7 linked regions of the Homo sapiens genome follow. The protein of the gene in region 1 purifies or fractionates together with the protein of each later gene. This does not show direct contact. Each region holds a gene or a part of one and is shown in the gene's direction. Other genes may lie near its edges.

Region 1 (4,186 bases):
GAAAAGAGCTGGTGTGAATGAATATTTAAAAAGAGGTGCCTGAGGAGGACCCGCTGACACCACGTTGCAGGGTTCCAGGCTCTCCTTGTGCTGTGGGTTCCTATACAGGAAGCCAAGCCCTGCCTCTCTCCTCCTTTCCCTTGGATCCCACAGCCTCTTCATGTGCCGAGCGGGATTCCTGTCTACGGAGGCCCTGAGGGCGGCGCTGGTGTGTTTTTCCTCCAGCCTCCGGAAACCCCTCAGTGATCTCCCATAACATCACAGGGGCTGCATGGGCTGCGGGGCTGGGGGCTGACTTCCAGCACTTCCCTCCCTGGCAGCCGGGAAGAGCCGCCCCTCTACCAGAGATGGAAATGGCAGGGCAGACAGCAAATAATTGGCTTCCGGGATCTGTGGGGTGTAAAGAACCAGGATTTTTCTCACTCGAGTGGAAAAAGTAAAGTGCCCGGCAGAGTAGGGCAGGCAGCCCCTTCCAGAGAACCCTTCCCGTGCTCCTCCAGAGGCCACACCAAACTTCGAATTACATCTGTTGGCAAAGGATCATGCCCTGCTCAAAACAAACACGTGATGTGATGTGATGTTGTATGGAGAACCGGTGATGGTGGGGAAGGTGATCAAGAAAACACGCTAGTCGGGCTGCCCAGCCCACCGGTGGCCGAGTGCCAGGGCCCACTCTGCCAGCCAAGCCATTTCCACCCGAGGCCCCTCCTGCCCCACGGCCAGCTGACAGGGCCTCCCAGGCCGCTGCCTCTTTTGATCCAAGCTGGCACCTGGCCCCTCTCACACGCAGCCCTAAGGGGACACTCAGGTGCCACCAGCCCCTTGGTGATAGGCCCACCTTGGAGCTTCCCACTGGCTTGTCCAAGCCATTAGCAGCCACCTGTGGGGTTGTTTCCACACTTCCAGTAAGAGTGACCCACCCCCAAGATGCCCAAGACACAGGCTGGTGCACCGTGAAGACTGATTTGAGAGTCGAAGACATGGGCTTTAGTCCCGGCCCCATCATCTGCCCTCTTCGGCCCCGTTGTCCTCCTGGGTGGTCCCTGAGGCCCAAGAGCTCTGCGCCTGAGCACCACTTGGGGAGCGGAAGTGACTCAGTGGTGAGGTGGCTGGAAGCGGGCCCACCTTGTGGCCTCTTTGCCCCGAGAGACTTCTGCTTGACTGCGGTGGCCAGGGCAGGGGGCAGCCCTCTGTTCCTCAGGCGTGGGAGAAACAACCCCTCCTTCCAGAATCAGAGAGCAGTGCCCACTTCATTTAGGCAAAGGGTGGAAGTGGGGAGAGGAGGGGCTGTGAAAACACAGCGATGCAATCCCAGGAGGAATCCGCCCTGCACCGCTCCTCTGGCCGAGAGGAGAGGATCTCCACTCATGAGCGGCCAGGCTGGGGGCCCCAGAAAGCCTGACCTCATTCCCCAGGGGCACGGGAAGGAGCCAGGGCTAGAAGAAAAGGAGCTGATGTGGTGAAGGTGAAAAGAGCCACCAGACAGCCTAACTGAGGGGTCCAGGGAGCCCAGCGGCTCAGATGTTGGAGTTCGGCTCCAAATCCTCAAACATCGGCCCCACTCCCACCCCCAGCCAAAACAGTCACTTTGCCCTCTAGCTGGGGGTAAGCCTAATAACTGAAGACTCAGGTCCCAAGGCTCATCGAGAGCGAGGAAAAAGCCTTCTGTTTCTCAGTAGGCTAGGTTGATGGATAGCTTGGCAGTTTCCGTGAAGGACAGGCAGCTGTTCTGGGTGTTAGAATTGATGTACAGGGTGGCATAGCTGGGCATGGCTCTCATACATGCACTGCCCATGTTTGATCATGTATAATTTAGTGATTGTGTGTGTGTGTGTGTGTGTGTGTGTGTGTGTAGAGCACTGAGTCCCAAGGTCAGGCCCAGCCCTGTCATAGGCCAGCTTTATCACTGGGATGAAGTCCCTGGTACTCCCTGGGGTCAGTCCCCTCATCCAGGTGGACCAGATGATCCCATGGGATGGCATCAGAGTGTAAGTTTCATGACAGTGGGGTCTCTGTCTGTTTCTGGCACTTAGGGGGTGTCCACTAAGTCTGTTCAGTGTGCACATCTGTACTGTACCATGGTATCGTCAGAACCTCACGCAGGCATTCCGTAAACATGCAGAAAGATGCCTGTATTCAACAAACAGCGATGGGGCGACTGCCAGGTGCCCGGCTCTGTATGTCTATATATGTCTAAGGACTGAGGAAGCTACAAAGAGCTCAGATGCTGCCCTTTCTCTCAGGGAGCTTACTCTTTACTAGGACACATAGGATTTGTGCCCAAGTCACTCAAAAAAAGACTAACAGTGATAAGTGTCTTAAGGGAGTTCCCAGCGAGAGAGTTTGGGGGTGGGCTGGGCTCTTTTCCTGGCTTTCCTTCTTTGCTGCTGTTCTTCGAAATGCGTCCTCGGTTTCAGCCACAGACAGGCTCCTGGTTCTTGCTGGCACCCGTTCCCTGAACAATCTCTCCCAGCCTCGAAGATGTGACATGTGGGAGCTGGCAAATCTGACGGCACCAGATTTGCCTCTCTGGGCTTCACAGCTGTATTTCCATCGGTGTCCTCAGTGTCTCCAGGTGGAGACCTGCAGGCACCTTCTTCATGGTTCAGATGAGACACCTTCCCCTTCACCTGAACCCAAGCTAAAAAATGGGTTATTCTGAGTTGTTGCCCCAGCCCACACTTTTCAGTCAGCCAACATGTATGGAGTTCCTGTTTTTAGGGAGGAAGCACGCTAGTTGGAAGGCAAGCCTGGGTGCTTTCTGCCCTCCCAGCAGAAATAAGACGTGCACACCTGAGACGAGAACCGAATCATCCAGGCAGATGCCACAAAAGAACAAATGCACGGCATATACGGGAGATTGGATGGGAATCCCGGGAGAGAAAGGGAGCATTTCAAGTTGGGCAGTTCAGAAAGGCTTCAGGGAGGAGCTGAAGGGTGGGGAGGAGTTGGATGGGGTCAGTGAAGAGGGCAGGAAGGAGTGCTGGGAAAAGTTGGACAGCAGGTCCTGGGGGAAGAGTGTTTGGTGGTGGGGGAGAGAGATGGCCTGCAGTTGAGGGAGCCCTAAGCCAGAAAGGACCTGAGTGCTCCATAAAGGACACGCGGTTGTGTCTGGTTGACATTGGAGAGACCTGGGAGGGTTTGTCAGGAGAAGGCCTATTTGCCACTTGCCCCTGGAGATATTCTCTCGTGGCCTTAGCCCATGTTGAGAAACCTCTACTTTTAGAGAGTGGGAGGAAGAAAATGAGCTTGTAAAGGAGCCAAGAGGAGCAGTCCAGGACACAGGCAGAGAACCATGATGGTAATGTCATGGAAATTGAGAGGAGAAAGTTCCAAGGGGGAGGAAATGACCCACCGCGTTGACTGCTGATCAGCAGAGTTAGCTCAGGATTCATGGATCAGAGAAGGCCAGGTTGCAAGGGCCAGAGGGGCTGAGTGGATCAGAAGCAAAGGCGCAGGAGGAGCTGTGTCCTTAGAGTGGGAGGCAGGGCCCAGCTCAAAGGATTTCAAGGCAGGGATGGCCCGTGCTCATTGGGAGGGGGAGGGACAGAAGAGGCATGGGGGGACTTGGGGACAGAGCGGTGGAATTGAGGGAGACTTGCTTTGAGAAGAAAGAATCTCTTTATCGGGAGGCAAGGGAAGGAGAAAAGATGGTTACAGACATAGACTCTGCATTACGAGCAGCTGCATTTAACCTTTTTATAACACATTTATTATTTTTTTAAAAATCAAAAAATTCCAAAAAGGAAAAACATTCACTCACGTGAACTCCTGCCCTGTAGAGATAATAAATGACAAAATGTAGATGAACATTCTTCAGAAATCATTCTGTGTATGTTTGCACAGATTTTTTTCATGTAGATAAGATTACACTATCCATGTTATTTTTATTTTTATTTTATTTTACTTTGAGACATAGTCTCACTCTGTGCCCAGGCTGGAGTGCAGTGGTACCATTGTAGGTTACTGCAGCCTTGACCTCCTGGGCTCAAGGATCCTCCCAGCCTCCCAAGTAGCTGGGACTATAAGCAGGTGCCACCATGCCCAGCTAATTTTTGTATTATTTGTAGAGATGAAGTCTCGCTATGTTGCCCAGGCTGGTCTCAAGCTCCCGACCTCAAGCAATCCTCCCTCCTCAGCCTCCCGATTACTTAGCGTTTTTGTTCTTAGTGCTGGTTTTTAGTTG
Region 2 (3,206 bases), on another chromosome or scaffold:
AGAGCCTGATGCACCAGCCCAAAGGGCTAGAGGAGGAGAATGCCCAGCTCCGGGGGGCTCTGCAGCAGGGCGAAGCCTTCCAGCGGGCTCTGGAGTCAGAGCTGCAGCAGCTGCGGGCCCGGCTCCAGGGGCTGGAGGCCGACTGTGTCCGGGGCCCAGATGGGGTGTGCCTCAGTGGGGGTAGAGGCCCACAGGGTGACAAGGCCATCAGGGAGCAAGGCCCCAGGGAGCAGGAGCCAGAACTCAGCTTCCTGAAGCAGAAGGAACAGCTGGAGGCTGAGGCACAGGCATTAAGGCAAGAGTTAGAGAGGCAGCGACGGCTGCTGGGGTCTGTACAGCAGGATCTGGAGAGGAGCTTGCAGGATGCCAGCCGCGGGGACCCAGCTCATGCTGGCTTGGCTGAGCTGGGCCACAGATTGGCCCAGAAACTGCAGGGCCTGGAGAACTGGGGCCAGGACCCTGGGGTCTCTGCCAATGCCTCAAAGGCCTGGCACCAGAAGTCCCACTTCCAGAATTCTAGGGAGTGGAGTGGAAAGGAAAAGTGGTGGGATGGGCAGAGAGACCGGAAGGCTGAGCACTGGAAACATAAGAAGGAAGAATCTGGCCGGGAAAGGAAGAAGAACTGGGGAGGTCAGGAGGACAGGGAGCCAGCAGGAAGGTGGAAGGAGGGCAGGCCAAGGGTGGAGGAGTCGGGGAGCAAGAAGGAGGGCAAGCGACAGGGCCCGAAGGAACCCCCAAGGAAAAGTGGTAGCTTCCACTCCTCTGGAGAAAAGCAGAAGCAACCTCGGTGGAGGGAAGGGACTAAGGACAGCCATGACCCCCTGCCATCCTGGGCAGAGCTGTTGAGGCCCAAGTACCGGGCACCCCAGGGCTGCTCAGGTGTGGACGAGTGTGCCCGGCAGGAGGGCCTGACTTTCTTTGGCACAGAGCTAGCCCCAGTGCGGCAACAGGAGCTGGCCTCTCTGCTAAGAACATACTTGGCACGGCTGCCCTGGGCTGGGCAGCTGACCAAGGAGCTACCCCTCTCACCTGCTTTCTTTGGTGAGGATGGCATCTTCCGTCATGACCGCCTCCGCTTCCGGGATTTTGTGGATGCCCTGGAGGACAGCTTGGAGGAGGTGGCTGTGCAACAGACAGGTGATGATGATGAAGTAGATGACTTTGAGGACTTCATCTTCAGCCACTTCTTTGGAGACAAAGCACTGAAGAAGAGGTGGGCAGCTGTGGGGGAGTTGGGTCGGGTGGGACAGAGGCAGTCGGGAGGATGTGAAGAGCAAGGATCATTAGTTTGAGTATCCTTACTTTTGGTCCCCAGCTGGCTTCCCTTAGAGAAGGCATTCAGGTCCGCTTCCTTTCTTCCCTTGAGGGTAGGAAGCTGCCTGTGCCCACCCCAGAGTGGTCCTGAGCAGTCCCCTTTTGGGCAGGGGGATTCTTTCTCCTGAGTTGCCCTGCCCTACCTCTACCTGCATGGCCCAGGGGACGAGGGAGATCCCCATCTTCCTGTCTCCCCGACTGGAGCCTTTATCCTGGGAGACCAGGTTTTTCCCACATATGCTTGGTGGTGCCTGCTCAAGTCAGCTTCATTGGGAGGAGCAGGGTCCTCTCTCCTTGGGGAACCCGTTTTCATTGCATGGTATTGTCCCCTAAAGGCCTCTTCCTCCCCACAGGTCAGGGAAGAAGGACAAGCACTCACAGAGCCCAAGAGCTGCGGGGCCCAGGGAGGGGCACAGCCATAGCCACCACCACCACCACCGGGGCTGACACCCTGCCCCACAGGGAATGGCCTTGGCCTGGCCCAGCCCAAGATCCCAGCGTTATCTAACTCCTGGAGGGTGGACTCTGTCCTGGCTTGTTTGGTGTCCTCAGATATCTTTCACACAGTAGAGCAAAATCACCAGCCCTGCACTGATGTCACTTTATGTAGAAAAAGGCCTTAGCTGGACCTGCGTTGCCGTCTATGCAAATGCATGCAAATACTCCAGGCCCTGGGATGTGGGCTTGTGTTTTGTCACTGTGAAGGGGGAGATGGGAGAGGAGCCTGTTTTGGGGTGGGGTCTGGGGAAGGCAATCTGATTCTGAAGCTAAAGAGCTTTCATCCTCTTGAGTGTATGTCCCCATAGTGGGCCCCTTGACCCACATGCTGACCGGTGCCTTGGGATTTGACTAGAGTTGCTGGCTCGAGGCCCAGCACGAGGACTTACCCTGGGGTTTTGTTAGGTTTGGAAGCAGCTGTCCCTAGGGGGTGAAGTCCCCCCCCTTTTTTTTTTTACCCCTGCTTCTCCCACGGCTTCACCTCCCTATGTGAACTGTAGACTCAGATCCCAATAAAGTGCTGTTGCAGCTATGATGCTAGGTGGTTTCTAAGCACAGGGGACACCCCACACCCCCTGCCTGAATGGATGGGTCCATCCCAGGCACTGGTACTTGCCCCCTTGTTCTGTATCCCCCTTTGCCCTTGCCTTGCCCTTCCAACAAACCCTAGGCCCTTGAGAAGCTGATACTTCTCCTTTTGCTCACAGCTGCCTTGGCCCCACCCCTGGGAGATGTAGCAAATTGAGTGTGGGTTTTGGAGTCTGAGCCTCAGGCTCAAATCCAGGCCAAGTGATCTTGGGCAAGTTAATCTCTGGGAACTTTGGGTTTCTTATCCTCAAAAAAGGCGATGGAAGGGCTGGGGAAGTGATTAAATAAAAGCAACGCAAGAAAAATGCCTCTCCTGTTTTGGGCACTCAAAAGTTATTGCCTTCTTTAGGGAAGGGTGTGGAGGAGGGAAAAGAACCCAGGCCCAGAAGGAAGAGCTTCTGGGGCTGGGGAGGTGAGGGAACCACTAGGTGGCACCCTGGCTCCATTTTGCTCCAGACCTCGCCTCTCCCACTACTCACTGTCCCCAAAATCTCAGACCCTACCCCACTGACCCCAGCGCCTGCTCCACTGGCCAGCTCTCCCAGGATGACCAGACTCCCCTTGGCTATTCTCTAGGAAGTCCTTCCTGAGATCTAACCTTAGTCCCTTCGGCAATACACTGGGCTTTTTGATGACCCTGGAAATGCCCAGGAAGTACAGGAGACAGAATAATGTGGTGTGACTGCTCAGGCAGGAGGCGGGGGACTACAGGTTCTAGAAGGGGCTGTAACTGATTTCTGTATTATTTAGCAAGCGAATATGTAACTCTGTTTAAGGGCTTAAAGGTATTAGTTCATTGAATTCAT
Region 3 (3,966 bases), on another chromosome or scaffold:
ACTCCCTAAATGCTCTGAGACTCAGTTTCTTCATTTACATAATTGGGATAATTCCAACCTTATAGAGCTATGATGAAATGAGGTTTTACATGTGTTATGCTTTTGGCTTATTACCCAGAATATAATAAATCCTCAATATGGCAATTATTTGTTACACCTCTGAAATATCTCCAATAATTCAAGTAAGGATGCAATGCCTCAGTTGACTATGTACTATGGAATTAAGAAAGAAACTTGTGTGTTGTCTGGTTTTAAAACTGTTTTTTAAGGCATGTAATGTTGCTTATTTTACCTTTTTAATTCTCCCTGAATAACATTTTCTTTCTTCCACTCAGTGAACATCCCAAAATAGAATTTTACTTGAAAAACTTTACATCAGCCAAAGATGTTTTGTTTGCCATAAAGGAAGTAGGTTTCAGAGGGGGTAATTCCAATACAGGTAAGTAGACTTTGATACCTGGGATGTAACATAGGAGAGGGTTATCAGTGATCAGACATGTAAAACAGTATTATGCTATTTTATATGAGCAGATGTGAAATCCTCCTGGAACTGAAATCTTGGCTAGGTCTGCATTTGATCATCTGAGATAAATTTTCAATTTATAATGGAAGTATACCAAAGTGTTGATATTTCTTATTTTAAAAAATATAAAGCATGGTGATTTAGAATTCTCATACATTGGATTGACTAGATATAACATTGGAGAAGTATCTCTTTGTAATGCTAAAAAGAAGTGAAAATCAACAGACTTATCTAATGAATGCAGATGTGGCAGAAAGAATGAGTAGCACTACCGTTGACTCTGAAGAGAGACTTCTTAGAGGTACTAATCAGTCACCAAAGGGCTACATAGAGAGCACATGCATGGAAGTGGGAATCAGTTTTGTGTTTCTAACTGGCGATTGATGTGGGGTAAACAAATGTGAGGCTTCTAGGAGGTGGAGGGGGAACTAATATGGCTTGTGAAGATAAATAGGCCTGGTAGATAATTAAACTTTCCCAGCTGATGCATCTGTTACAGAACTGGGTTCTATATAATTCTTTTTTGTGTGCCCCGCCCCACTGCCAGTTCTATATATAATTCTTAAACTTTGCAGCATCAAATGCTACAGGGAAACAGAAATGTGGTTTGAGCAGTGGTAAAGGCTATTTGTTTGCTTCTTTTTCAAATTTAGGAAAAGCCTTGAAGCATACTGCTCAGAAATTCTTCACGGTAGATGCTGGAGTAAGAAAAGGGATCCCCAAAGTGGTGGTGGTATTTATTGATGGTTGGCCTTCTGATGACATCGAGGAAGCAGGCATTGTGGCCAGAGAGTTTGGTGTCAATGTATTTATAGTTTCTGTGGCCAAGCCTATCCCTGAAGAACTGGGGATGGTTCAGGATGTCACATTTGTTGACAAGGTAAAGTGGTGAGGGTTATCTTCTGTTACAGTGATGGGTATTCCATTTTGGACCTCTAAGTGCAGTGCTGACTGCCTCTTATCTAGATTAACTTGAAACATTCAGGATTTTCCAGTTTTTAAGAAGAAACAACTTTTGATCCTTTTGGATATCTTTTATGTGTCTCCCCCATTAGGCTGTCTGTCGGAATAATGGCTTCTTCTCTTACCACATGCCCAACTGGTTTGGCACCACAAAATACGTAAAGCCTCTGGTACAGAAGCTGTGCACTCATGAACAAATGATGTGCAGCAAGACCTGTTATAACTCAGTGAACATTGCCTTTCTAATTGATGGCTCCAGCAGTGTTGGAGATAGCAATTTCCGCCTCATGCTTGAATTTGTTTCCAACATAGCCAAGACTTTTGAAATCTCGGACATTGGTGCCAAGATAGCTGCTGTACAGTTTACTTATGATCAGCGCACGGAGTTCAGTTTCACTGACTATAGCACCAAAGAGAATGTCCTAGCTGTCATCAGAAACATCCGCTATATGAGTGGTGGAACAGCTACTGGTGATGCCATTTCCTTCACTGTTAGAAATGTGTTTGGCCCTATAAGGGAGAGCCCCAACAAGAACTTCCTAGTAATTGTCACAGATGGGCAGTCCTATGATGATGTCCAAGGCCCTGCAGCTGCTGCACATGATGCAGGTAAGGTCCTTGTTCTTTATAGGAGAAGGGAACAGAAAAAACGGTTCAGTGAATTTAGGAGTAAATAAAAATTTAAGCATTTATTTCATTAAACAAACACCTGTGGCTTTACCCAATATTAACTGTTAAAGCAGCCCTACTCATCTCATTCTACAGATAAGGAAGCAAACTTCCTGGAAATGACATTTCTAGTAAGTGGCAAGGCCAAGATCCAAACCCAGGCATTCTGGCTCCAGAGTGCACATTCCTAACCACTGTATTGTTGGGAGAATTGCCATGAGAACCATGTCACATTAAGGAAATATGCTTATACATATACAATTAAGGTGCTCATATTTAGCTCAAACTTGGACTATATCTCCAAATAGCCAGCTTATAACCTACCATGAATCTGCCATTCAGTAATTTATCCTAACTTTCTTGTGTATGAAACAGGTAATTGCTCTGTCACCAGGCTGGAGTGCAGTGGCATGTAGTGAGCTACAACCTCCAACTATTGGGCTCAAGCAATCCTCCTGTGTCAGCCTTCCAAATAGCTAGGACGACAGGCACATGCCACTGCCCCTGGCTAATTTTTAAATTTTTTTGGGGAGAGACGGGGGTCTCACTTTGTTGCCCAGGCTGATCTCAAACTCCTGGGCTCAAGCAATCCTCACACCTTGGCCTCCCAAAGTGCTGGGATTACAGGCATAAGCCACCACACCCAACCCTAACTTTTATTTTAGTCAAGTTTTGTCTGGCATGAGTTTCCTAAGATAAGGTCTCCCATAGACTTTACCTATCCCATCAAAATTTCCTTGGCCAGGTGCAGTGGCTCACATCTGTAATTCAGCACTTTGGGAGGCTGAGGTGGGCGGGATCACCTGAGGTCAGGAGTTCAAGACCAGCCGGGCCAACATGGTAAAACCCAGTCTCTATTAAAAATACAAAAATTAGCTGGGTGTGGTAACATACACCTGTAATCCCAGCTACTCAGGAGGCTGAGGCACGAGAATCACTTGAACCCAGGAGGCAGAGGTTGCAATGAACTGAGATCGTGCCATTGTACTCCAGCCTGGGCGACAGAGTGAGACTCTGTCTCAAAAAGAAAAAAAAAAAAAAAAAAAAACTTTTTCCCCCCCGCTTAAGATAATAAAAACACACTCTGGTGTTATAAAAGGGTATAAGAAGGGTTTCTTTCTTCCTCACCCCAGCCTTAATATTACTTTTGGCACAGGCCTCGTTCCTGAAGACATTAACGTAATGTGTTAGAGATCAAATAGGCCAACAAAAAGCTAAGATTCCCTTTCTGAGGATATAACTGAGTGACAGGAGGGAAGAATCAATGGACTTGTTTTTTTTAACACTCTTCTGTACCTCATTTTCCCTACTTAATTCCTAATGACATAACCTTTTTCCTTTCTACACATTAGTACCTCTGCCAATGTACTCACATATTTTTACAGATACTGATGAAAGATTATTCTTAAAACAGAGAACACATGCAATTTAAGTTCCACATCTAGCTTGTAAAAAGTATTTTTTATACATCAGCAACTAGCCTGTGAAGTAAAGACCTGTTTACTATCATATTCCTTAATACTTAGCTTACTGAACTTATAGTTAACAGGATTGTATTCAGGCTATAAAGTGATTAGGTTGATTAAAGTTCAGGAGGCTGGACTACACCAATATTGATTCGTGAAAATTATCCCTTAGTGATATTGAAAGTTGCAAAAGCCAGAAAATAGGGTAGGATTTTAGGGGTAGATCACAACAGTTTTTATTTATTTTCAGGGTCTTGCTCTGTCACCCAGGCTGGAGTACAGTGGTGTGATTATTTTTTTTTTTAACTGTAATTATATGCTGGGCTTGAGCTAAACAATCTGAAC
Region 4 (4,186 bases), on another chromosome or scaffold:
GTAGCTCCATTGGCATGATTGTAGCTCACTGTAGTCTCAAACTCCTGGCTTCAAGCAATCTTCCTGCCTCAGCCTCCCAAGTAGCTGGGATATAGGCATGTGCCACCATGCCTGGCTAATTTTTAATTTTTTCTAGAGACAGGGTTTCTCTTTATTGCCCAGGCTAGTCTTGAACCGGCCTCAAGCAGTTCTCCCACCTCAGCCTCCCAAAGCACTGGGATTACAGATGTGAGCCACCACACCTGGCCATGTCACATTTTATTTTGCTGTATGTTTGGACCATGACTTTCTGGTACAACTTTCCCCCAACAGCTCTTAAAAAAAAAAAAAAAAAAAAACCCTAAAAATTAAAATACTTCATATATACAAAAGAATAAGTATGAACACTTACTATTTATTTATTTATTTTTGAGACAGAGTCTCCTCCCTCTGTCGCCCAGGCTGGAGTGCAGTGGCACAATCTCGGCTCACGGCAACCTTCGCCCTCTGGGTTCAAATGATTCTCCTGCCTCAGCCTCCTGAGTAGCTGGGACTACAGGTGTGTGCCACCACACCTGGCTAATTTTTTGTATTTTTTTTTTTTTTTTTTTTTTTTTGAGAGGGAGTCTCGCTCTGTCGCCGGGGCTGGAGTGCAGTGGCGCCATCTTGGCTCACTGCAAGCTCTGCATCCTGGGTTCATGCCATTCTCCTGCCTCAGCCTCCTCAGTAGCTGGGACTACAGGAACCTGACACCACGCCCGGCTAATTTTTTGTATTTTTAGTAGAGATGGGGTTTCACCGTGGTCTCGATCTCCTGACCTCGTGATCTACCGGCCTCAGCCTCCCAAAGTGCTGGGATTACAGGCGTGAGCCACCGCGCCCGGCCAATTTTTTGTATTTTTAGTAGAGACAGGGTTTCACTGTGTTAGCCAGGATGGTCTCGATCTCCTGACCTTGTGATCTGCCCACCTTGGCCTCCCAAAGTGCTGGGATTACAGGTGTGAGCCACCATGCCCAGCTCGAACACTGACTTTTTATAACTTGGTAATATAATGAGAATCTTTGAACCTACTATTCAATCTAAGAATACCTAATAAATAATTTGCATCTTTGTGCTCTCCCAAACCTGCTTATATACCTTTTTGTCCCACTGGAGATTTTAAATATCCTTTTAAAAAAATTATTCAAGGAAGACTAATACGCCCTTACTAAGTGTATTCAACCTCTCAACTGTACTCTCTTCACTAGAAACCCGGGAGGATTCCCTTCTTGGACCTTTTGGTCTGCTCTGATTTGCATCAGTTGTTCTTTAGATCTACTCCCTGTCATCTTGGGACTTGTCTTTACTGTGCTTTCTGGATTAGGTTAGCTGTTTCTCAAACCCCCTCAAATAACTTCTTCAGAAAAGATATAATGGAAAGTAAACTTGGAATTTTTGCATGCCTGAGAACTATTTTTATTTTGCTTTCGATCTTGATTGATGGCTCAGCTAGGTATTAAGTTGTAGGCTGAATATTATTTTCCTTCAAAATTTCAAAGGCCTTGCTCTCCTTTACTAGCATGCATCATTGTTAATGAAAAGTCAGAGAACTCTGAATTCTGCTCCTTACTATTACCTCCTCCTCTCTTCCCCTGAAATTTTACAGACCTTTGTTTAACTCTGGTATTCTGAAATTTCACAATGATGTGTTTAGGTATGTGTCTTTGATACTTGTTGAGCCCTTTCATTTTAGGTAGTACTTGAGTATCAGAAAAAGGATGGAAAAGATTTTTCACACACTAGAATAGGGTAGGGAACACATGGCTTTCCATTTGGAGGGGCTGGTGTGAACAAGAACATGGAGATTAGAAATGATACGACCATGACTTCGGGACAGAAAGGCTGATTTGCTTGACATATAAGGAAATAGAAATAAGATTGGGAAGATTGATGGATGTTGTCTCATGGAAGGCTATGACTTGACTGTTACACATTTAAAGTACATGTTCAGAAAGAGGCTATAATTGAAAGAAAGAAAGAGGCTCTAATTGTTTTCCTATTACATTTATCCATCACTATCTTCAAAGGATTGGTTCCAGGACCACCCACTACCCCTGCCCCTCTGTGCACAGTTTCCAAGAGATGCAGATGCCCAAGTCCCTTATATAAAATGGTGCAGTATTTGCATATAACCTATCCACATCTTCCCATATACTCTAAATCACCTGTAAATTACTTATAATACCTAATACAATGTAAATGCTATGTAAATAGTTGCTATAGGGTAATTTTTAAATTTGTGTTTTTCATTGTATTATTATTTACTTATATTTTGAATATTTTCTATCGATGGTTGATTGAACCCTAGGGTGTGCAGGGCCAACTGTAGATCACTCCTTAGTGATCATACTTCTTGCTTCCCTATTCCTGCTACCTCCCCAGCAACAGGATAAGACCTCGTCTAACCTACATGAAGCTGCTTCGGACTGTGTATGCTCAGCTCTCTATGCCATTGAGAATGTGGAGACTAACTTGCCATTAGCCATGCAACTTTTTCAGGGAGTGCTGACATTGGAGACTGCCTATCATATGGCCGTGGCACGTGAAGATTTAGACAAGTGAGTAATTGTTTAAGTCTGGAGCCCTGGGTTTACCTACAGTCTGGTCATTCTTTTAAGTCACTTTTTATTATTCGTCTGTCATTTGTGATTCTCAGTGATTCTGTAAAGTACAGATAGTGCTTCCTAAAGATGCTCTACTATGCTCTTCTGAACCTAGAGTGGCAAATTGGGTGCAGGGTTTGTAGAATTACCATAGAAAGGTAAGGCTTTAAAAGTTGGAGACAAATTTTAAAATATCAAGTGTGATTTGATGGGAGTTTTTATTCAAATGTTTTAATAATTGAGAATTTGAACTGACAAGTCACTTGCGTAGGAGTGTACGATCTAGGTAAAGGTGTCTGTCATGGGGATTGTGATACAGCATAGTAAATAATCACTAGATGTCCCTTAGACTGAGGAACCTTTTATTTATTTGATTAACTGTGCCTGTATATACTTATAATATCCAGATTTCTGACTCATTGTTCTCATTCCCCTGTCTTCTACAGAGTTCTGAATTACTGCCGTATTTTCACTGAACTATGTGAAACTTTTCTTGAAAAAATTGTTTGTACTCCAGGCCAAGGTCTTGGGGACCTTCGAACTCTGGAGCTGCTGCTTATCTGTGCAGGCCATCCTCAATATGAGGTAGTGTTTATGCTATTCAAAGGCCATTATTCTCCAAGTTGTGTGCTGCATATTATCTATATTTCATTACCTCGTGCCCAAATTTTTATTGTTGAGAAATTACAGTCTTGTTTTTAATTAATGTGATTTCATCTGTTTTGGAATTTTTTAAAAAAATTATATTTGGGTTTCTGCATTGTGTCCATTTCTGTTTTCTTACCTGGTTGGCTGGGCTGTTGTAGGCCCCTCAAGGAACTCGTTAGAAAGCAAGCCTTTCCAATGAACCCCTTGTCTAGCTTGACTTATTCTCTAGAGTGTTACAGCTAAAAAACACCAAATTCTAACTATACCTCCACAAGTCTTAACACCCCCAATTTTTCTCCAAATGATGGATGAGAATGACAAAGGGATTGAAAGGACTTAAGGGTCTCTGTCATTCAGAATCCTTGACATCCTACTTACCGAGGTTTGCTAGATTTTTTAAAATCTCATTTATTTGAGAAGTTTTACCTCTTTATAGTATAAGAAATGAGAAAGGGTCGGGGTTGGTGGCTCACACCTGTAATCCCAGCATTTTGGGAGGCCGAGGTGGGCAGATCACCTGAGGTCAGGAGTTTGAGACCAGCCTGGCCAACATGGTGAAACCCTGTCTCCACTAAAAATATAAAAATTAGTCAGGCGTGGTGGCTCACACCTGTAATATCCCAGCTACTTGGGAGGCTGAGGCAGGAGAATTGCTTGAACCTGGGAGGCAGAGGTTGTAGTGAGCTGAGATCGGGCCACTGCACTCCAGCCTGGGAGACGAGCGAAACTCCGTCTCAAAAAAAAAAAAAAAAGTGAGAAAGAAGTGCTCCCAAGTTGGGCATTGTTTTAAATAGCTCTGTTTTGGATCCTTGATGGGAAAAGGATGGTAGGGATCCTCTTACTGTGCCTTAGGCACAGTGGTCCTGTGACTCTCGGCCTGTTTTCTGTTATCACATACAAGACAACGTTTATTTGT
Region 5 (4,186 bases), on another chromosome or scaffold:
AGACCCAGTGGTTCATGCCTATAATCCCAACACTTTGGGAAACTGAGGCGAGAGAATTGCTTGAGGTCAGGAGTTTGAAACCAGCCTGGGAAACATAGTGAGACCGTGTCTACGAAAAATTTTTAAATATTAGCCAAGTGTGGTGGCATTCGCTGTAGTCCCAGGTACTTGGGAGGCTGAGGTGAGAAGATAGCTTGAGTCTGGGAAGTCAAAGCTGCAGTAACCCATGATTATACCACTGTGCTCCAGCCTGAGAGACAGAGCAAGACCCTGTCTCTCTAAAATGTATGTATTATATGTGTTTTTTATGGGCAGATTCTATAATTATTATTTAAATAGTTGCCTCTTAGTTGCTCTTGTGAAATCTTTTGCTGCAAAAATTGAAGCAAATGTACTTTGGTTGCTGTTTATTGCAAAATATTTATTCATAGTAAATTTTGAAATAAAAATATATCCCCATAAGACATTTGTAAACATTTTCCAGATAAAAAGCAAGTATTTGGCATCTTAAAATACTTAAAAGCTCACTAGAATTTTGACAAAGCCATTGAGATCTTTACCACTAAAACACGTAATTCAGCATCTAAAAGTCGGTCTATCAAATCTTTATTAAATGCTTTCCGTACTGACACGGCCCTGGTGGTTAAAATACAAGTGCATATGTGTGCCTGTCTGTGTACTCTTAAATACTGCTTACTCTCACTCTTCATCTGATTAAGTTGGAGGGAAAAAATCTGAACCCTTCCACTGCCCAAGAAGGATTTCAAGGAATCACACTATATCATTGTCTTCAGACCATTTCCTATGTGGAAAGAAAAGAGAAATAATACATAAGAAACTTAAAAGTGTGTTGCTTTAATATCTTCTCTCTGCTAAATAAAGGCCTGATAGGCCAGGTGTGGTGGCTCCCACCTGTAATCCCAGCACTTTGGGAGGCCGAGTTGGGCGGATCTTGAGCTCAGGAGTTCAAGACCAGCCTGGGCAACATGGTAAAACCCTGTCTCTACAAAAAATACAAAAAATTAGCCAGGCATGGTGGCGCATGCCTGTAGTCCCAGCTACTTGGGGGGTTGAGGTTGGAGGATTGCTTGAGCCCCGGAATTTGAGGTTTCAGTGAGCTTTGATTGCACCACAGCACTCAGCCTGGGTGACAAAGTGAGACCCTGCAAAAAAAAAAAGGCCTGATATATCCTATGTCATCTTGACAATAAACACTGGAGATAAGTTGCCCAAACCCATATGGCTTGAGTGTCAGTTTGCATAGCTCTTTTCTAAACTCTTATAGAAATTTTTCAGGTAAGAATTGAGGTGATTCTACTTTCAGAAAGTTAAAAAGTTGTTAAATTACTAAACAAGACACAAAACCTGTCACTCATGCTTATTTAATTACATAGAAATTTAATCAGCTGGAATTTCCATTGTGAAAATTTTGTTTCTTATGGAAACTTCAATAGATTTTTTAATTGCTTTTTTGTTTTGTTTTGTTTTGTTTTGTTTTGTTTTGTTTTGAGAGATGGAGTTTTGCTCTTGTTGCCCAGGCTGGAGTGCAGTGGCGCAATCTCAGCTCACCGCAACCTCCACCTCCACCTCCCAGGTTCAAGCAATTCTCCTGCCTCAGCCTCCCGAGTAGCTGGGATTACAGGTGTGCGCCACCACGCCCAGCTAATTTTGTATTTTTAGTAGAGACAGGGTTTCTCCATTGGTCAAGCTGGTGTCAAACTCCCAACCTCAGGTGATCTGTCCACCTCAGCCTCCCAAAGTGCTAGGATTACAGGCGTGAGCCACCGTGCCTGGCCTAAATTGCCTTTATAAAAGTTTTTTATAGTATCTGTTATAATTATGTACAAAAAGTCAAAAGCTCTTTAAGCAAGTTGTATAACTCTGGTTTTTGTTTTAATTATCCAATATAATTTTCTCTATAAATCATACTGTAAAACCTTGGCTAACTCCATTTCCAGCTTTTTTCTTTGTGTTAGTAGAGTTTTATCTAAAAGACAAGGGTATAATTTAAATGTCCTGCTTCTTAAAAATGGAATATGGTCAAGGTTTTCTTGAAAACTAGGTATTGTGCTAAAACTGAGGCTATAGATGGTATGAAACATAGGGCTAAATGGGTACTGACCCTAATAGTGGCCCTGGAACTTCTTTCCTTGCAGAAGGTCCGTAACAGCTTCCTTTGGTTATTTGCCTCTTTTTCATTATTAAGCTGAAATAGAGCCAGAGGAAATCCTGAATTTGTAAGTCCTCAGTCAGCTGTCTGCCACCATTTAACGTTCCTAAAGGAGCTATTCAGAGGCAACACACACCATTAATTACCACCATGCACTGTAGGAAAATGTAAACCATTCATTATCACAGGACCCTAGATAGATCTGTATGAGGTCTCTATAGACTGCAATGGCTCATGAAGGAGTCAGGAAGATTCTTTTTGTAAGGCCTACGCTAAAAGTAGCCTGGGTCCCTTTCTCCTGTATCTCACTCTTCCACAAGGCCATATGATATGATAGTGAGAAGAGGCCCAAAAACGAGAGTTATTTTTATTTAGTGATTTATAAGTGGTCTAATCCATCTATTCCATCCTTCATTTGCCATAAACACAACCCAGTTTATACTTAGTGTTCAAAGGGGGACAGGCCTGGGGCTTCTATCAAGTGCAAGTGGTCGGGAACCCTGCTTCCCTTATGCAATCATAGGCATGTAGGAAGGATGGAAGAGTAGCTGCACAAAGTAGTCCAAAAGAAAGATAGCTGGTCTTGTTGATGGGCACCTGTAATCCCAGCTAGCTGGGAGGCTGAGGCAGAAGAATCACTTGAACCCAGGAGGCGGAAGTTGCAGTGAGCCGAGATCACACCACTGCACTTCAGCCTGGACAACAGAGTGAGACTCCATCTCCAAAAAGAGAAAAAAAAGGGGCCACAGTACTTAAAGGAAATAGCTGATGTGCTATGGCTCTATTGTTCCAGGAGCTTTTATAAATAGCAATAACTAATGTCTACAATAACTCGGCCAGGCATGGTGGCTCACACTTATAATCCCAGCATTTTAGGAGGCCAAGGCGAGAGGATCGCTTGAGCCCAGGGAGTTTGACCTGCAGTGAACTATGATTGTGTCACTGTAGACCTCTTCCTCTTCAGCTGCCTCAAAAAACGAACAAACAAACAAAATAGCCAGATCTCCTCTCTACAGAATTTTTTTTTTTAATTAGCCAGTGGTGGTAATGTACCTGTGGTCCTAGCTACTTGAGAGGCTGAGGTGGGAGAATCACTTGAGCCCAGGAGTTCAAGGCTGCAGTAAGCTATGATCAGGCTACTGTACTCCAGCCTGGGTAACAGAATGAGACCTTGTCGAAAAACAAACTACAACCCTATGAAGTATTGGCTGGGTGCTCTGGCTCACACCTATAATCCCAACAGTTTGGGAGGCCAAGGCAGGAGGATCACTTGAGCCCAGGAGTTCAAGACAAGACTGGGCAACATAGGAAGACCCCCATCTCTATAAAAAATTAGCCAGGCATTATGGCACACGCCTGTGTTCCCAGCTACTCAGGAGGCTGAGGGGGTAGGATGGATTGGGCCTGGGAGGCTACAGTGAGCCATGATCACACCACTGCACTCCAGCCTGGGAAATAGAGTGAGATCTTGTCTTTAAAAAATAAGATTAAAATAAGGTATTATCCCCACTTCACAGATGAGGAAACATCAAAGTTATTTAACTTGCCCAAAGTGGTTATACAGCTTAGTAAATGGCAGAGCTAAGGCAGTCCAGTCACCCACCTAATCAGTATGATTCGTTGCCTCCATTCGATATTAATCCCCAACAAAAGGCCAAGATCCTAGAAATAGAAATCCCCAAGTCCAGAATTACTTATAGTTCTTTTCTTCCTTCTACTTGAAGGTATACCCTTTAGCAGACCCTAATTGCTTGTTTTTCACTCTCATCTAAATGGGAAGACTGGGAACTGCTCTCACTAGAATATGCCCCTGACTCATAAAAAGGAAATAAAGGACCTTATACCCTAACATGGATGCCAGTTTGAAAGCTTAGTTTTTCAGATCTGAAGCAGCTTTCTCAGCATATTTTCTTGACTTCTAGAAAATCAGTCATCTAGGCTGGGTGCGGTGGCTCACGCCTGTAATCACTTGAACCTGGGAGGTGGAGGTTGCAGTTAGCCAAGATCATGCCACTG
Region 6 (4,186 bases), on another chromosome or scaffold:
ATAGAGGCCTTTTATCCTCCTTTAACTTGTTATCATTGTGGTATGGAGGAAAGAAAAAACAGTAGCCTGGACCCAGGGAACCTAGGTACTGGGCCTGGCTCTACCACTAACAAAATGTGTGCTCTTTGATGGGCCACTTTACCACTTGGGGCCTGGGTCTTCACATTTATAAAATGGGGAGTTGAATTAAACGATTTACAAGATCTCTTCCAGCTCTAACCTTCTATAAGGAAACTGGCATCATGGCAAAGAGATTGATGAAAAGGTCCCATTGTGATAGAAATAAAATATAGATAGCCAGTTCTCATGTACAGTGAATGTGAATGGGTGTTAGTTCCTTCATCGATAAAAATGGTGGGTGTTTGATTCCAACTCCTTGGTTTATAAAGCCTCGTTTGTTTTTTTATGGATTGCTATGGTTGATTTCCTACTGTTAAAATGTGAATAGTAAAACTTTTTTTTCCCCCTTCAATTTAGTGAATGCAGTAGTAGAGCAGTGTCTATATTCAACAAAGAAGGGTGTTTGGAGATTGTGTTAAAGTATTTAAGTAGGTTTCCTACCAATGTTGACCTGGCTATTTCAGTAGGTAAGTGAAGAAAAGGTGATGACTTATTAAGAATGTGTAGCCTTATTCAAAAATTTTTATGCAGCTTTGGCGTGTTTATTCCACTGGAGTGATTTTTTGTTTCGTTGTATGTGAATGTGTAGCTCAGCACCTGTTTTTTCTGGGTCTTAAATCTGTGATTAATATTAATTCTTTACCTACTCATTCAGTTTTTCTGCTTTTGACTCTGAAAGGGAGAAAGGTAATTATGTGAGGATATGTGGTTTCTAGCCTGTTTCCATTCTTAGCAGCCTTTATTAATTCTTGAAGTTTTCATCTCCATTTACTAAGAAACAGTAACGCACAACTACCAGGCCTTTAAGCCAGTTAATTGGAATCTAAACTTATTTAAATGTATTGTGCTACTATCTCATACGTCCAGCAGAAAACTGACGGCCTGAGTTTTGTTGAGAGAAAAAGAGGAAAAGAAATGATTGAAATTCCACTTAGGCCTTCATGCCTTCCATGAGACAGGGAAGGCAAAGTCCAGCAACTTCAGTGGCTTTGGCTGCCTCGCCTTCTCTTTATTGGGCTGGGGAACCACTGGGGACCCTCAGCTCAGTGGCAGGAGGCAGAAGTCAGAGCATAGGCAACTCAGCAGAATTCTGGGTGGGAGTGGAGAAACAATTGAGGGAGAGCATTTCTTTTCTACCGATCATTACTGCGGGCATCCAGCTGTCCCTTTGTGGAACTGCATTTCTCCTGGGGAGGAAGAAGTGTATTCCCCTGACTGCTGTTTTTCTTGACTCTAATGGATATTTTTAAGAGAACAGAATTGAGGGAAAATAGTAGAATAAATACTACTGAGAAAATTTTAAAAATCATTTCTCTAAATGGAATCTTGGTGGGGCTGGAGAGTTGTGAGTAAATGGGGATTTTAAAAACGATTCAGCCATTTTTAGGAAATTGATAGGTGACTTAATCTCAGAGGACAGTTTTTGTTACAATAAGAGAACTTCAGGAAAGTTAGTTCATATCTTTTACAAGAAAAATCACTTCTATTTTTGTGCCTTTAGTCTTATAGATTTATTTCTGTTTTTAGTTTTTCTTCCCCTTAATGAGCGTTTTTGAAATGGATTAGAATAGTCATTTTGCATTGTATAATAGTGTTTTCCTTCTCCATGTAGCTAGATTAATGATTTTTTAAAATACATTATTACTTTTGCTTCTAAAGTCAAGCAATGCTTACATATAGTAAAATGAACTTATAAGATTCCATCCCATGTATTCATATAACTTTTTTTGAACCTGTATGGTAGCAGTCATGGCTGTTGGCTAAAGTAAATTTAATTAGTTTCTTAATGACAAAGATATTACATTTGGATATATGTACAGAAATGCATATATGTGGATTTCCATATAAATGTATCATCAACCACAGCAGTAGCATGCATTTTGAGTAATTTTGATGGGCATGATTTAATATTTTACACATCTCTTAATTTGCTCATACTTTTATATAAACTACTTTTTTTCTTAAAGAGCTATTGCTCTGCCAGAAATAACCCTAACTTTGAAGGTCATGATAAATTTAAAGGAAGCCAGACGTCCCAAAACCTAAGGCTGTTTGCTACTGGTCCTTGATAAGTACATAAATTGAGGGTAAAATTTTTTTTTTTTTTTTGAGATGGAGTCTCAGCTCTGTCACCCAGGCTGGAGTGCAGTGGCGCAATCTCGACTTACTACAACCTCCGCCTCCCGGGTTCAAGCTATCCTCTTGCCTCAGCCTCCCAAGTAGCTGGGATTACAGGCGTGCATCACCATGCCTAGCTAATTTTTGTGTTTTCAGTAGAGATGGGGTTTTGCCATGCTGGCCAGGCTGGTCTGCAACTCCTGACCTCAAGTGATCCTCCTGCCTCAGCCTCCCAAAGTGCTGGGATTACGGGCATGAGCCACCGCACCCGGCCTGAGGATAAACTTTTATAAACATTTATAGTAACGACATTGCCGCATTTAAGAGTCTTTTTAGGCTGGGCGTGGTAGCTCACACCTGTAATCCCAGCACTTTGGGAGGCTGAGGCGGGCGGATCACAAGGTCAGGAGATCGAGACCATCCTGGCTGACAAGGTGAAGCCCCATCTCTACTAAAAATACAACAAATTAGCCAAGCATGGTGGCGGGTGCCTGTAGTCCCAGCTACTCGGGAGCCTGAGGCAGGAGAATGGTGTGAACCCAGGAGGCGGAGCTTGCAGTGAGCCAAGATTGTGCCACTGCACTCTAGCCTGGGCGACAGAGCGAGACTCCATCTCAAAAAAAAAATAAAAGAGTCTTTTTAATTGTATTTTGTAAAAAGTGTAGATCTGGCTGGGCATGGTGGCTCATGCCTGTAATCCCAGCACTTTGAAGGGCCGAAACGGACAGATCACTTGAGACCAGGAGTTCCAGACCAGCCTGGCTTTCATGGTGAAACCCTGTCTCTACTAAAAATATAGAAATTAGCCAGGCATCATGGCGCATACCTTTAATTCCAGTTACCTGAGAGACTGAGGCACAGGAATCGTTTGAACCTGGGAGGCAGAGGTTGTAGTGAGCTGAGATGCGCCACTGCATTCCAGCCTGGGTGACAGAGCAAGACTGTCTCAAAAAAAAAAAAAAAAAGTATAGATCTGTACAGGATTAGAAATTTAAAAAGAAAAGAAACATGATCTTTTCCAGCACTGATAGTTTGGGAAGCCTCATTTGCGCATATCACCCTGAGATAAAGCATATATATTTTGCAAAACCTACATGTGTCTAATGAAGTGGTAATGATACAATGTTTTATTGATGAGTTATACTGGTGTAAATTATCCAAAGCAGAATTCATTTGTTTCTAAATACTTATTTTTTGCCTCGTAGCATATTGTTTGCAGACAGTGACTGAGGATAACCCAGAGCTGCTGAAGTCTTTCAGTGCTACAGCATTGAACATGCTGGAATCAGCACTGCTTTCTCCTGTCAGTTCCATGGAATCTCTTCTATTGAAGACATTGGTAGCAGGTAAAATTTAGCCTTACGGCATAGTATATTGTTTCAGTAGCTTTTGGTATGGATGTGGTGGGGGCAAAATTTAGTCATTCATTTCAACACATTAGGTCTTCTGTGCTTTTATCTGTTCTGAAAATTTTAATATCTGAGAAGAGACCCTTACTTCAAGCAGTTGTCTATAGTTGTAAATCCTTGTAGAATAGATTTGTTTCGAATTTAACAAACTACTGTTAACCTGATAAAGAGATGCTGTTGTCAGGATCCCCACTTATTTATGAACCAGTGATTTCAGAAATTGACCACTTAGTTTTCCATAAGTTTTTTTTTTTTTAACCACCAACTCTTTTCTCTGCAGAATGTCTGAATACAGAAGTAAGAAATTATCTGAAGGTCTGTTTAGTATGTACTTTATTTAGTTTATGTATCTATTTTCTTCTTGCCCTTTGTCTTGCAGAGATAATTTATGTTGAGAGATTTTTTTTTTACTTTTTTACTTTTTTTATTTTTTATTGTTTTGAGATGGAGTCTGGCTCTTTCACCCAGGCTGGAGTGCGGTGGCTGGCTCTGCAGCCTCACCTCCCAGGTTCAAGTGATTCTCATGCCTCAGCCTCCCA
Region 7 (4,186 bases), on another chromosome or scaffold:
TTTGCTGAATGGTAATTTTTTTTTTTTTCTGACTTCCACTGGGAGTAAGAGGTACATCATGCTCTACCTGAGATCAGCTACATATTGATCTTCATTTCCTTTTCTGAAAGGCAGCATTATGAGCGTATAATTGCCTAAGCCAAAGGCACCCAAAAATAGATCCTAAAAGCTTATCTGGTAGATTTCAAAGCTGGTGGTCTCACATCAACACTGACTAGTATTCCTAGCAGAGGGGAGAGATGTCACAGATACCCCAAACCTGTGAGTTCGGATTATTCAAGGACTTGTATTGTCACTCTAATTACCTTCCATCTTTTCCTCAACCTCCACTTAATACTTACAAGTAATTATTTCATATAATAAAATAGGGATAATTGATTTAAATAATAACAACAATGAAAAACAGTGTAGACAATACACATTTTTGAAGCTTTTGCATGTATATTCTGCATTAGCAATGCTTTAGGTCTGGAAAAGTGTGGATTAACATATAATTTGCTCTGCCTAGTGTGTTGTTATTAGTTTTGTTGAATGTGACACTGTTTCTGAAGCTGTCAAAGATAGAACATGCTGCTCAGTCCTTTTACCGTCTCCGCCTCCAAGAAGAGAAATCTTTAAAGTAAGTCTTTTTCCCCCTGACCTGTATTCACCATATTATTTCAGTAATTCTTCAGTTGCAGAAAACTTAATTTCAGTTTCAGAGACTGTGGTCTGCTAACTATCCTGTAGCCATAAACAGCCTGTTTTTGTTTGTTTAATTTTGTGTTTTGTTTGCAAATTTATGGGGCTCTGATGATTTCTGGAAATGAAAAAAAGATCAGAAGCTATTCTCCAGATTTTGAAGATGGCATTTTTCTTTCAGTTTAGCCTCTGATATGGTGTCAAGAGCAGAAACTATTCAGAAGAATAAAGATCAGGCCCATCGTTTAAAGGGAGTGCTCCGAGACTCCATAGTGATGCTTGAACAGGTAGGCAACTCGATACATCACAGTACTTAGTATCTTTGTCCCAGTATGAATTAGTTGCTCTTCTGTGTATGAGAGAATATTTACCCTACTATCGTTTGAAAAAATCCCCCTGCTAGAGCCAACTACCCCTGCCAGTCTCTAGTATGCAAGGGTATTACATTTATTATGTAGTCACTTTTGTTTATTTATTTATTTACAAAATGGGAGTATACAATATACACTGTTGTATATCTTTTTTCAATTAGTAATATATTCTGAAGATGTTTCCATATCAGTGTGTATACATCTACTTCATTTTTATTGATCTTTCTAAATAAAATTCGATGCATAATATTAAGCTCTTTTTACAGGAATGGTAGCTATTACATACACTGTCCATTATTTTACTTTTATCTATTAACCATATATCTTGGAGATACTTCCATCTCAGTATATAAAGCAAACCCCCTTAACAGCTGCATAAGATTCAACTGTATAAATGTACCATAATTATCTTACTAGTATTTTTACCACTATTGCCAATTATCTTTACAGACATTTAATATTTGCAGACATTTAATCCCCTAATTTTCTGTTTATAAATCTCTCAGAATCTTTATTCACGTAGGTACTCCATTGATGAGGTCTTCTGATGGCTCCAGTCAGGTCCAGTGGCCCTCTATGCCGGGTGCACAGCTATCATTCTGGGGTTCCTATTGTCTGTGTGTGTCTTCTGTTTCCTATATCCTGTGTTTTCCTTTCTTAGTTTACTTCCTCCTTTTAATGGAGCACATCCAACAGTAGCTTCCTGAGAAGAGAATTTGGAGGTAAATATTTTAAGAGTTCACCTAACTGAAAATTTTTCATTCTACTTTTTCTCTTGCTTATAAATGGTTTGATGAGAACTTTGAAGGCATTGCTCCATTATCTTTTGGTTCCAGTATTGCTATTGAGAATTCTGAGGCTATTATCACTCTTGATTCTTTAATCTGGAAACTCATGCCTATAATTCTGGAATTTTTCTTGAGTCATATAGTTGATTATTTCCTTCCCTCATTTTCTCTCTCCTGACCTTCTACAACTCCTGTTATTCAGATGTCAGCCTTCTGTTGGATGGGTTATGTAATATTCTTACCTTTTCTTTCCATCTCTTAGTCTTTTTGGTCTGTTTCTGGGATATTTTATCAATTTTATCTTCAAATTCTTCCATTGAGTTTTTCAGTTTTCGCTAACAAATTTTCAGTTTCAAAGAGCTATCATTTTTCTGAATGATTTCTTTTCTTTGTGGTGTTGCAATTTTTTTTTTTTTTTTGAGATGGAATCTCACTCTGTCACCCAGTCTGGAGTGCAGTGGCACAATCTCAGCTCACCACAACCTCTGCCTCCCAGGTTCAAGTGATTCTCCTGCCTCAGCCTCCTGAGTAGCTGGGATTACAGGCGCGTGCCACCATGCCTGGTTAATTTTTGTATTTTTAGTAGAGACAGGGTTTCGCCATGTTGGCCAGGCTGGTCTTGAGCTCTCGACCTCAGGTGATCCTCTCACCTCGGCCTCCCAAAGTGTTGGGATTAAAGGCATGAGCCACCGTGCCCGGCCATCTTTTTTTTTTTTGAGACAAGAGTCTTACTCTGTCACCCAACTGGAGTGCAGTGGCATGAACACGGCTCACTGCAGCCTTGACCTCCTGGGCTCAAGCAAACCTCCCACCTCACCCTCCCGTAGCTGGAACTTCAGGTGTGAGCCACCATGCCCAGCTAATTTTTGCAGTTTTTGTAGAGACAAGGTTTTGCCATGTTGCCCAGGCTGGTCTCAAACTCCTGGGCTCAGCAGATCTACCTGCCTTGGCCTCCCAAAGTGTTGGGATTGCAGGCATGAGCCACTGCTCCCAGCTGCAATTTTTTTTTTTTTTTTAATGGCTACCATATCTTTATCTCTCTGAAGATATTACTGATAGTTAACATTTTTTAAATCTTCTTCTGGCATACTCATTTTGCATCAAGATCTTCACCCTCGTTTTAATTTCTATCTTTAAGGTTAGAGAATTTCTTTAGTGTTTGGTAGCCCTTGCTTATCTTCTTGTGTGGATCTGAAGCTCTTTACATATGGATTGGGCTGGTGTACCCCAAACTTCTCTGTAGATCTGGCTGGGCTCTTGGCTGAGAAATCCTGGTTATCAGCACCTTTGGGTCAGTGTCCACAGAGAAGACTCCTCCAGTCTCCAACCTGGTGGATTTAGGGCTGGCTGCAGCGTTTTAGGAGCTGAGCGGAAGAGGGATAGGGGAAGGAAAGGCAGAAAGGATGGTCCCAGGATTCAGTACATACATTTTCCTGTATTACCCTTGTTTCTGGTATGTACTGCTATCCTTAACAATGCCTTGGTGTCCCTCAAGCCAGGCAGCCAGAGACCCTCTGTTTTATCCTGCACGGAAAATAAAATTCCAGACTTCTGCCTAGGTAGTAGGAAAGGTCAGATGCCGAAAGTTTCATGCAATCCTTCCTTTGGCTCTTCCTCTTTATTCTCACTTCCAGAGCTTCCTGGTCATTAACACCTGAGCCTTTTGAGGATTCTTTAGGGTTAATTTTGTTGGTTCTCAGCATTACTTTTACTTTAGAATTCAGCTTTTCCAGGCCTGCTGAGTCATCCATCTGCTTTCCAGTTTCCAAAGTTGCATTACTGTTGTCTCCTTTTCCATTTTCCTTGCCCTTATAGCTTTATGCCTTCTAAAAAATCTCTTTATTAGTAGAGTTTGAGGGAGCAAAGTTGGATGTGTGTATTTATTCCACTCATTCACTCTTCAGCTCACTCCTGCCTGATGTTCTTCCCGCATGGTTTCCCCAACTAATATTGCTTGAGCCAAGGTCCCCAGTGACATCTGGCTTGTAAAAAGAATGTACCTTTTTTCAGTCTTCATCCTACAGTGTCAGCATTTGACAGAGCTAAACACTTCTTTCTTGAAATGTATCTAATGTATCTAATCTTGCTTTCTTTAAAACCATAAAAAAATCTTTTTGTGATGTAATTTACATACAATAAAAGTTTTTATTCACAAGGTTGTGCAACCATCATCACTATCTAATTCCAGAGCATTTTCATAACCCCACAAGAAAATCTGTACACATTAGTAGTTAATTCCCATCCCTCACTCCCCCTGACCCCTGGCACCCACTAATCTAATTTCCATTACTATGGGTGTGCCTATTCTGGACATGTTATATACATGGAATAATACAATACGTGGTC

The links.
Region 2: the proteins of SCARA3 (region 1) and PBXIP1 purify together in Homo sapiens (affinity purification with mass spectrometry; 3 studies listed by BioGRID and IntAct, with this or other methods). This does not show direct contact.
Region 3: the proteins of SCARA3 (region 1) and COCH purify together in Homo sapiens (affinity purification with mass spectrometry; 3 studies listed by BioGRID and IntAct, with this or other methods). This does not show direct contact.
Region 4: the proteins of SCARA3 (region 1) and TNPO3 purify together in Homo sapiens (affinity purification with mass spectrometry; 4 studies listed by BioGRID and IntAct, with this or other methods). This does not show direct contact.
Region 5: the proteins of SCARA3 (region 1) and IKBIP purify together in Homo sapiens (affinity purification with mass spectrometry; 2 studies listed by BioGRID and IntAct, with this or other methods). This does not show direct contact.
Region 6: the proteins of SCARA3 (region 1) and HEATR3 purify together in Homo sapiens (affinity purification with mass spectrometry; 4 studies listed by BioGRID and IntAct, with this or other methods). This does not show direct contact.
Region 7: the proteins of SCARA3 (region 1) and GRAMD1C purify together in Homo sapiens (affinity purification with mass spectrometry; 3 studies listed by BioGRID and IntAct, with this or other methods). This does not show direct contact.

The regions. Positions count from the first base shown.
Region 1 is NC_000008.11:27,636,495-27,640,680, forward strand, and holds part of SCARA3 (scavenger receptor class A member 3), read left to right. Parts: intron 1-4,186. UniProt on the Homo sapiens protein: Seems to protect cells by scavenging oxidative molecules or harmful products of oxidation.
Region 2 is NC_000001.11:154,943,579-154,946,784, reverse strand, and holds the end of PBXIP1 (pre-B-cell leukemia transcription factor-interacting protein 1), read left to right. Parts: coding exon 1-1,213; intron 1,214-1,667; coding exon 1,668-1,761; 3' UTR 1,762-2,705; downstream 2,706-3,206. UniProt on the Homo sapiens protein: Regulator of pre-B-cell leukemia transcription factors (BPXs) function. Inhibits the binding of PBX1-HOX complex to DNA and blocks the transcriptional activity of E2A-PBX1.
Region 3 is NC_000014.9:30,884,218-30,888,183, forward strand, and holds part of COCH (cochlin isoform b precursor), read left to right. Parts: intron 1-292; exon of another isoform or gene 293-335; coding exon 336-439; exon of another isoform or gene 440-457; intron 458-767; coding exon of another isoform or gene 768-824; intron 825-1,176; coding exon 1,177-1,403; exon of another isoform or gene 1,404-1,578; coding exon 1,579-2,095; exon of another isoform or gene 2,096-2,109; intron 2,110-3,966. UniProt on the Homo sapiens protein: Plays a role in the control of cell shape and motility in the trabecular meshwork.
Region 4 is NC_000007.14:128,999,450-129,003,635, reverse strand, and holds part of TNPO3 (transportin-3), read left to right. Parts: intron 1-2,401; coding exon 2,402-2,577; intron 2,578-3,068; coding exon 3,069-3,207; intron 3,208-4,186. UniProt on the Homo sapiens protein: Importin, which transports target proteins into the nucleus. Specifically mediates the nuclear import of splicing factor serine/arginine (SR) proteins, such as RBM4, SFRS1 and SFRS2, by recognizing phosphorylated SR domains.
Region 5 is NC_000012.12:98,637,765-98,641,950, reverse strand, and holds part of IKBIP (inhibitor of nuclear factor kappa-B kinase-interacting protein), read left to right. Parts: intron 1-4,186. UniProt on the Homo sapiens protein: Target of p53/TP53 with pro-apoptotic function.
Region 6 is NC_000016.10:50,072,128-50,076,313, forward strand, and holds part of HEATR3 (HEAT repeat-containing protein 3), read left to right. Parts: intron 1-477; coding exon 478-587; intron 588-3,443; coding exon 3,444-3,584; intron 3,585-4,186. UniProt on the Homo sapiens protein: Plays a role in ribosome biogenesis and in nuclear import of the 60S ribosomal protein L5/large ribosomal subunit protein uL18 (RPL5). Required for proper erythrocyte maturation.
Region 7 is NC_000003.12:113,939,378-113,943,563, forward strand, and holds part of GRAMD1C (protein Aster-C), read left to right. Parts: intron 1-508; coding exon 509-619; intron 620-862; coding exon 863-968; intron 969-4,186. UniProt on the Homo sapiens protein: Cholesterol transporter that mediates non-vesicular transport of cholesterol from the plasma membrane (PM) to the endoplasmic reticulum (ER).